Regions from separate parts of the Homo sapiens genome. Here regions 2 and 3 are each reported to be linked to region 1. The links are microRNA targets in miRTarBase. Many come from high-throughput screens and were not tested one by one. Region 1 holds a microRNA gene; each other region holds the end of a gene's coding sequence.

Region 1 (3,260 bases):
CTACAGTCTGACCCATGCTTTCTGGCTTTATATTGTACCACTACGTTCCTAACTCACCCTCGTTCCAATGGCATCAGCATTTTCTCTTCCCTCAAAGATAATGCACTTCTGACTTTTGCATATTATGGTAGCCAGCCCCCAGGAGGGCTCCCAGTGATTCTCACCTCATGGTACCCATGCTCCTGCGTGGTCCCCTCCCACATCGAATAGGAATGACTTGTGTAGCCAAATAGGACATGGCAGAAATGACTTTGTGTGAATTCTGAGCCTTGTTTATTCTTGTCCTTTCTTGCTACAGGCAAAGCCAAATGCCGTGTTGTAGGGAAGCTCAAGTAGCTTCATGGAGAAATCCACATGGCAAGGAACTGAGGCCACCTACTAATAGCCAGCATCAATTCTTTAGCCGTATGTGTGAGCCACCTTGGAAGTAGACCTTCTAGCCCCCATCAAGCTTTTAGATAACTGTAGCCTCACCAACATCCTGACTGAACTACACAGCTGAGCAGCTTCCATATCTCCAAGCCACAAACACTGTGTGCAATCATAAATGTTTTTAGTTGCTTTAAAGCACTAAGTTTGGGGTAATTTTATTCAGCATTAGATAACTAATACACATAGTCTGTTTCACCAGCTAAAATTGCTGCTCATTTCTCTGTTACCCCCCAAACCTGGTGTGAGCAGCCCCTCCTCTGTGGACTTTTTCTGGTCTTCTTTGCATGACTCAATCCCTCTTTCTTCATTTTCTCACACAGATTGTTTAGCATTCTATTAATGCCACTGTCACAAGGAAAAGCAATATTTTTATTACAGTCTCTCTCCTCTGTCGATTCTAGGCTTCTTGAGAAAGTTTGTAATGTATGCATTCTTCAAAGAGGTATTGTTATTAATAGAGGCTCAGAAGATGGCTGAATGAATGAAGAGTGTGTGTTAGAACCTGGGGAAATTTAAACCAAATACATTTAAAGCCAGTGACATTTTCAAAGCATATTTGGCTAGAAAGACTAAGTTCTTTAAAGTAGTTTAGAAGCAGTATTAATGGTACACAGTCTTTGTCCCATTCTTAACAGTACAATAATGATAATTGGTTGCTACTCTGGAAACAAATTAAAGAGCCCAGGAAACGTTTCCAAAGGTGACTGGAATGCTTAACTGAGCTAGACTGTTAATATCTAATGCTAGCCTTCCTGTGGGCATAGCACCCTGAATTGCCTGATCTCATCTAATGGCACATGCTCAGACATCCTTGGTTTTAAATAAAAATTGTCTTATCACTTAGTTTAAAAATGTTTTGCTTAGTAAAAAATTTATGAGGGCAGGTGCGGTGGCTCATGCTTGTAATCCCAGCACTCTGGAAGGCCGAGGCAGGCAGATCATGGGCTCAGGAGTTCGATGCCAGCCTGGCCAACATAGTAAAACCCGTCTCTACTAAAGATACAAAAATTAGCAGTCCGTGGTGGCGGGCGCCTGTAATTCCAGCTACTCAGGAGGCTGAAGCAGGAGAGTCGCTTGAAACCGGGAGGCAGAGGGTGCAGTGAGCCGAGATCGCGCCACTGCACTCCAGCTTGGGCAACAAGAGCAACATTCGGTCGAAAGAAAGAAAGAGAGAAAGAGAAGAAGGAAGGAAGGAAGGAAGGAAGGAAGGAAGGAAGGAAGGAAAGAAGGAAGGAAAAGGAAGGAAGGGAGGAAGGAAAGGGAAGGGGAGGGGAGGGGAGGCGAGGGGAGGGGAGGAGAGGGGAGGAAAGGGAAGGGAAGGGAATACATTTAATAAATGTGGAGTCTGCCAAATCAGGTCGGCAGTTTACTTCTCCTGTCCCCGGTTCAATAACTCACTTACTGGGGTTCTGGAGGATAGCAGTGAGAAGATGGGGTAAAAAATTAGAGAGAAGTTTTGCGTTGCCCCATGGCTGCTTCTGTAGTGTAGTCCGTGCATCCGCCCTTCGATGCTTGGGTTGGATCATAGAGCAGTGACTGTTGATGGCTCACCCAGATCCCCAGGAACCCACCACTCCCATACAGGCTTTCAACCTGTTAATCCCTGCAGCTGCCTGCCTGGACTTTCCTCTGACCATGGGAGTGTGCTCAGTCTTACTGCCCAGGGAACAGCCATCAGCCTTTGAGTGGCAAGAGTTGGTAGATTACCATCCCTTCTTGACCCTTGGAATAGGACAACTTCGAGATATGTTCTCCCGAGTCTCCCAGATGACCCCAGTGAGTTTGAACACCAGTTGTCCACAGAGATAATCTGCCCATTGCCACCTGTGTATTGACTCTTTTACATATTCTGTCTCACTTCTCTTTCTCCCTCACTTGTGCTTCTTAAGATTGTATCCTGAATAAGCTATTTGCACTCAAATAGGCAGAGAGCTAGCTGGATCCATTATTCTCTCTTGTCTTCTATATTTTAGATATCTTGTAACAGGCACAAGGTACCGTGTAGAGCTGAGGTGTAATGACCCAGCTGATCTGTTTGTACTTTCTCATGCTGCTAATGGGTACCTGGAGTTGAGAATTTATGCATAGGTGTGTACATGCCATCACAGCTCTGTGTGCATGAGTGCCTGTGGGGTCTGCATAGCATGCACACATCACAGAAACCCTCTGCCCTCCCTTCTCATTCCTCTATTTGAAGCCAAGTTTCCATAATCCCTCTACTCAACCCCCTTCTTCCCCAGCCCCCAGGGGCTTCCCATACTTAGGGTCACCCTTTCTTACCTCAGAGTTTCAAAGATGTAAGAGCTGATGCCCACCTTGATGGTATTCACAAAGTATAGCAGGGAGGCGGCCATGGAAATGACTCTTTACAGCAGGATGATATGTGGAACATGCCATGGCCAGGGAAGTAACTTTGTCTCAAGGGGATCAGGAAGATGCCCAGGTATGGGATAACTTGAGCAAAAGATTTTTGAGCACTGATCTGCAGATTTTACTCTCTGTAAAGGGCCAGATAGTAAGTATTTTAGGCTTTGTGGGCCATATGGTGGCTGCTGCAACTGTGCAGCTTTACTTTTTTGTAGCACAAAAGCAAGCATAGATACCACATAAATGAATGAGCATGGCTGTGTTCCAATAAAACTTTATTTACAAAAGCAGATGGTGGGCCAGATTTGTCCCATTAGCTGTGGTTTGCTGACCTCTGATTTAAAGAGTGGGAAGTAGATTTCTGGAAAGGGAGAAAGGAAGACTATTTCTAGCAGAGAGAAGAAAACATATAAAGGCAAAGAGTGGGAAACCAGAGGGAATAAGACAAATTTGATTTACCA
Region 2 (3,260 bases), not on the chromosome of region 1:
CTGCTAAAAGGAAAAGCATCCGGCGCAGACATACACTAGGAGGGCACAGAGATGCTACCGAAATCAGCGTTTTGAATTTTTGGAAAGTGCATGAGCAGAGCGGGGAGAGAGAATCTGAACTTTCAGCTGTAAACCGGTTAAAACCAAAATGCTCAGCCCAGGACCTTTCCATCTCAGACTGGCTGGCCAGGGAACGCCTACGCACCAGTACCTCTGACCTTAGCAGAGGAGAAATCGGAGATCCCCAGACAGAGAACCCAAGCACACGAGAAATAGCCACGACCGACACACCTTTGTCTCTTCATTGCAACACAGGCAGTTCTTCCAGCACCTTGGCTTCAACAAACAGGCCCCTTCTTTCCATACCACCACAGTCACCTGACCAAATAAACGGAGAAAGCTTCCAGAACGTGAGCAAAAATGCTAGTTCTGCAGCGAATGCCCAACCTCATAAACTGTCTGAAACCCCAGGCAGTAAAGCAGAGTTTCATCCCTGTCTTTAAACTGGGGGTATGTCCACTCTAGCAAGTAAAAAAACTACTGTTACACGTTCCAGTAACTCTGTCAATATTTTCTTGTATCAGAATTGTTATTATGCAGCCTTCATTTGGGCTGGTTTCATCATTTTGCACTGTGAAATAGCTTTACAGTGCATTACTACAGCCAGAAGAACATATATATATATATATATATTTAAAAATATATCGGATAGTTGTATACAAATGAGCAAGGTATTTGTTGCAACTTACTACATAGCATATACCCAAAATCACTGAAGAAAATCGCTGGCATCAGTGTGCAGCAAATTTGTTCTTTTGGTTTCATCACTAACAAAAGTGCCTCATCATAAAAATACAGTTGGTTTTTAGGGTGCCATATTGTTAAAATTAGATAACTTACTTACATTGAATAAACGAATGCGTTTTATTGGTAACAGATATCATTACATTTACCAGTTTTAACACAGGTGGATACAGAACTTCCATTCTTTAGTCATTCCAGGTGGATCTGAGTTTTATATTCAAACTTTTAATACAGTTTTTGAGTTTTGTGTGACTTGAATTTTTAATCTTTCTGTAAAATACGTAACTTAAATGAACATATTAAATGTGTATCTTTTCTTCAGATACCAGATTTGATATAATGTTGTAACATAGGTGTGTAGATAGTGGATCCTGGATGGAACTGGCTTCTTTATCGAGAAGAATATAATTCTGCATGAGGACTTAATGAATCCAAACCTGTGTCATGCCTGTGTGCATACCCAATTAAACACTGGAAATAAAAATTGTTTTGGTGAATTTTGCATGGCTTGAAACTTATTCTGATATATTTTTAGATGTCATCCATTTATAACTACCTTACATGATTAATTGGTCCTGACTTTAAAAAGGTGCCTACTATATTTATACATTCCATCTTCTCCTCTTTCTTGCTGTGGTGGGTAGAGACTCTTTCTTACAGATGCTTACATTAGCCTAACCTCACTTGTTGACTGATAGTGTTTAACTCTTCTAGGTAAAGTAATGTATGTTATGTTAATGTTCTTTTCGTGAGTGAAACGAACATGAGTTTGGAGTCAGTCCAGCTCTACCTAGGTATGTGAACTTGAACACATTATTTAACTTCTCTGAATTTGTTTTCTCATATAAACAGTTAGTTACAGTAACACTACCTATTATAAGGGTGATTAGATTTAAATGAGATACTGTTCCACTTACAGTGCCTGCCACACACTAGTTTCAAAATAGAACAAAGCTATTGTTGGAAGTAATGGTTACAAAAAAATCTCAGACTGTTAAGGCTGAGAAGGACCTTAACAGTCATCAAATCCAGAGATTGTCAACTGTCAAACATGATACTTTCTTAAAAGTATTTTGAGATTTCCCCTTTACCATCATGAAATTCATAATATATCTAAATATAACTTTACATTGAGTATGTTATGATATAGACCATAATCCCCTATTATAAAAGAAAAATGAAAGTGATTTATAATAAAATAAATTTTTCAATATGCAAATGCTCAGGTACAACTACATCATGAAAATAATATAATGGAATAGTCAGATGTTTGCTCCAGTATATAGAGTCACTAACAATGGTAACTACACATGGAGATGGTACCATGAATAGTTTGCTGCTGGCGATGAGATTTTACTAGGAGTCATGCTCTGCTTTTAAAGTTTTGAACAAAACAAAGCACACACTTCCCTTAGTTTACATGAGGGGGAGTTCTTGCAGTGTATTATTAAAAGTGTCAAAAACACTTTTTACTTATATGTTTTAAAAGTTACTTTCAAGGCTCAAATAGTTTTATATTATTTGTTCTTGCTCCTCATTTTTTCTATATTTTTTTTTCTTTTGAGAGAGAGTCTCACTATCAGTCTATTGCCCAGGCTGGAGTACAGTGGTACGATCATCACAGTTCACTGCAGAGCTGCGACTGACAGGCACATGCCACCATGCCCAGCTAACTTTTTTTTTTTTGTATTTTTTGTAGAGATGGGCTTTCTCCATGTTGCCCAGGCTCATCTCAAACTCCGAGGCTCAAAGCGATCCGCCCGCCTTGGCCTCCCAAAGTACTGGGATTACCGGCATGAGTCACCACGCCCAACCTTTCTTTGGCTATAATTTGCTCGACTTTTTAATTTCTTGAGACGATTGCTTGGAAAATTGATTTTTAGTTGTTTTCTAATATCTTCATTTTAAGGCTATATGCTGTATTTTTATTATCATTCATTTCAAAATGCTTTCTAGTTTGCATTCTGATTTTTTTCTTTAACCTGTGAGTTATTTAGCAATGTATTGCTTAATTTCCAAACATTTGAAAACTTTCTGGTTATGTTGACTCCAGCATAATGTTACATTATCATTAAACATACATTTGAAATTGAGACATCCATTTTGACCCCACTATATGGTCAATTTTGAGAAATAACACGTCTACTTGAAAAGAATATGTTTCTATCCTTACTGGATGCTTTTTATTTGGTGTATTAGGTCAAATTTAATCATGTTTTACAGATCTAGATCATTATAGATTTCTTCCCTGGCTCTTACCAGTTCCTGAGAAGTGATAGAATATTATGATATGAATGTAGATTTGCATATCTTTTATGTCAATCTTTTATTTTGAAGTTAGTTTACTAAGTGAACATAAATTTAGAATTGTTACGTCTTTGTGGTAGATTGACCCTTCTATTATGAAATGTCCTTCATAATGAGTCTCAACCAAAGCTTTATTACCTTATTTTATA
Region 3 (3,260 bases), not on the chromosome of region 1:
CTTTGGACTTCGAGCCCACTTCTTACCGGTAGGTCCTGGGCATACAACATACCACTGCATAATGGTCATGAGCACAGACTCGGGAGCCAAACCACAAGACTTCAAATGCTGGCTCTGCGACTTACTATCAGCTGATTTGAGACCAGCTGCTCGGCCTCCACATGTCTCAGTTCTCTTATGTACAAGATGGGCACCTACCTCCTGAGGTTGTTGTGAGGATTAAATGAGTTAATATATACAAATATTTATTATGGTGTTTGGCCAAAATAAGTTCTATGTGTGTGATTGTTATCAGCATTTTTGGAATCTCTAGTTCTTCCTACAGGAACGAGTGGTGACCCCACCAACTCGCTCACGCCTGACATAGCTTCTCACGGGGCCTGGCTCATGGTGGAAAATCGCATTTTCCTTATTTCTGCTTTTATAATAAACTTACCTATCATTTGAACTAACTTGAGTGGGTCTCAGTTCTTTGCAATAGAAAGGGTTGCTACCATGTAAGCTTTGAAAAATGAGGTGTAAACTGTGGATGTTACAAATGTGCAACAGTCCTTCAGAGTCGGAAAGGGTAGCTGGGACTCTGGGGCCTCTAGACTTGAGCACTTCCTGGGGAGGGAACCCAGAGTCCCACTTCCGGCCAGCAGAGCAAGGAGGTTCATTAAGCTGCCTTATCTTGAAGTTACCAGGTTTTAGGATCTATCCACTTCCCCTGTGCTGACTCCATACTCCGAAAGCAAGTAAACTTCAAGTAAAATTACCCTAGGGGAGAAGCAGGTACTGACAGACCAACATGAGTGTTTTCACTTATGAGCAGTTTTATTTCTCAGTGTAAGACATATAAATTGTTCTCACTGACATATAACTATTAAAAGAAAAATAAAATAAAACAATTTAAAAAGAAGAAATATAAATTGTATTTCTGAATCCAAGTCACCTGTGGGGGTGTAGCCAGCATTAAAATAATCGCCAGGACCCATGCAGGCATCTATCTCTGAATGAGGCAGTGCAGCATAGCAGTTAAGAGCTCTTGGGTCAGACATGGATGAACTGGTTGCATGATCTTGGCTCGTTACCAAGATAAAGTGACACAAGGTGTGTAAAGCTCCCGAGCTGCAAGCCAGGATCTTCATACACATACATTTTAGAGGATAATAGTCCTTTCAAAAGACACAGCTAAAGCCAATAAAAATAAACAAAAATAGGATCTACTTTTCTGGAATCACAGGTTTGGGTGCTTTGGATATGTTTTATCATTATATAGGCACTTGTGTGTGTCTGTATTTTTTTGAATATACAACATTTTAATGAGATACTGCACACTCCCAGGGAAAGCAATTCAATCTCTAATCCCTGGCTTCTGATCTCCACCTCTTTTCTACCTGCTGAGGTAAGGATGAACAACAGAACTTCTCAATTGAATTCTAAGCTTGGGCCTAAGCACGCTGTGCCCTCTGCCTTTGAGTTTGCACCCTGGATGGCTCCCCTCCTCCCAGGAGACCCAGTAGGGAGATGACAGAGCATTGTAGTTTACACTGAGCAGAGTAAACAGATGATGTTAAGGAGACTGTCAGTGAAGGGCATGATTATGCAAAATAAAATACAATAGTGACAAGAACAAGAAAATAAAACATGGTCACTCTTCCATCCCATTTCTCAGATGTCACTACAGTAGTCTCAATTACGGTAGTCTCAATTCTTTAGACTAAAGTTCATAGGTCATCCAACTTATGCCCTGGCCTCCTTCTGGAATTCTTTTACCTAGCAGTTTCTGAGCCCACAGCTGAGCTATTTGTGACCCATTTGCTCCCACTATCTCATTTCTTGACCTCAGATGGTAATCAACTGATCAGGAAGACAATTTCCCTAGGGTTGAGTGTGGTCCCTGGGTTATGATTTATGGCTATACCTTATGTCCTCCTGCCCCCAGGCCCTGCACCTTAATCTCACCCAGAAGTGGCAACACCAGGAGGAAGGAGGCAGTGAGTGGCGTCGGCTGGGGATGGCACACATCTGCCCATAATGACAATGGAGACAACCCAGTGCTCCAGAGTCACAGGTCATCCAGCCAGTTCTCTGCTGTTTCCTCTTCTTAAGATGCTTCTTCCCCTCTTTTCCCTATTGACCATAGGCATCCTTTAGACCACCCTTTTCAGAAAGCCATCCCCCACTCACCCTCTCCTTCCAGGCTGGGCTATGCCCCTTCCCCTGAACTCCCATAATGCTGGGGTTGGACTTCCCGTAACACCCACCACACTGTGCTGTAATTTCCTCTTTATGTTTCTCTGTCTTCCCAAGAGCTCTTTCAGATATAGAGCAGGTTTTTTTTTTCTCTATATTTTCAAGTCACCAGTGGCCACCACACTGCTTGGTTCATAGTTAACACAAACTAAATGGTTCTAGAGAATGTGATTACATGAACTCTAACATTATTGGAAGAAAACAAGATGAAAAGAGGTGAGATGCCTTGTTTAAAGTCATACAACTGGTTGACAGGCTGGTTCAAGAACCCAGGTCTTCTGACTTCAAATCCAGTGCCCTTTCTATGCAGCTACTTCTGTGCCAAGCACGGATGGTGGTGAGCAGAACTGGCAGCAGCCTGAGTCCCCAGGTACCCTGGCCATCCACTGGGCATTGGGGAAAGGACTTGATCAGTAGATTGAGAGTCCTCTCTTCTATCCCTTACCACCCGGCCCCATCCCATCTTCTAAAGCAGTCATTTCTATTCCAAGTCATCCAGGTGATTCAGCCAGGGATCAAGTCCACATGGTACTTGGGTTGATATGAGTCCTGTACTTAGAGGAGAGTAGGTAACTGCTCCTTCTCAGGAGCTCAGGGAGAAACTGGACCCTCGGCCCCAGAGCCCAAAGAAGGGAATGACCTTCCTAGTGAAGGAGGCAGTGAAGGTGTAGATGGGCTCTCGGGTGACAGCGTTGGTGAAGGTCACCCAGCCCACCTCATAGTCAAGAGACACCCTCACCTGCCGGGGCTGCTCCTTCAGGGTCAGCCGTGTGGGGAAGGAGCCCAGAGCCGAGACGAAGCCCCAAGCCAGCCTCACAGCCCACACCCCCTCCTCTGGCCGCAGCCGAAGCTCCCCCTTCCGCTGCACATCCTCGCTCACCACGCCCACGGTGCAGCTGCCCCCATGGGCCAGGTCTATACTCACCACCCACGTGTGTCTCCCCCCTGTGATGCCAGTGTGGGCCAGAACACAGGTGGCCCGGTCAAAACGTTGGGGGTTGTCTGGTGAGTTCTGCCATTTG

The links. The annotated mature microRNA hsa-miR-3182 reads GCUUCUGUAGUGUAGUC and lies in region 1 at 1,907-1,923, shown strand. An mRNA with a match to its seed (bases 2 to 7 or 8) in the 3' UTR can be bound and repressed. Matches are read on the target gene's strand: a 7mer-m8 pairs with bases 2 to 8, a 7mer-A1 pairs with bases 2 to 7 and ends in A, and an 8mer does both.
Region 2: the mRNA of ARHGAP21 is a reported target of hsa-miR-3182. Seed matches in the 3' UTR shown: 7mer-A1 at 665-671.
Region 3: miRTarBase lists TRIM10 as a target of hsa-miR-3182. Seed matches in the 3' UTR shown: 7mer-m8 at 2,552-2,558 and 7mer-A1 at 2,513-2,519.

The regions. Positions count from the first base shown.
Region 1 is chr16:83,506,443-83,509,702 of GRCh38, forward strand. MIR3182 (microRNA 3182) reads left to right here and starts at 1,904; the gene lies at 1,904-1,966. The region is part of intron 7 of CDH13 (cadherin 13); the gene reads left to right.
Region 2 is chr10:24,581,655-24,584,914 of GRCh38, reverse strand. ARHGAP21 (Rho GTPase activating protein 21) reads left to right here. Exons shown (of 26, transcript NM_020824.4): 26 at 1-1,301. The coding sequence ends at 503. Among named protein-coding and RNA genes, the nearest start is that of ARHGAP21, 140 kb to the left of the region's middle.
Region 3 is chr6:30,151,148-30,154,407 of GRCh38, forward strand. It overlaps TRIM10 (tripartite motif containing 10), which reads right to left. Exons shown (of 7, transcript NM_006778.4): 7 at 796-3,260. The coding sequence ends at 2,822. Among named protein-coding and RNA genes, the nearest start is that of TRIM10, 8.4 kb to the right of the region's middle.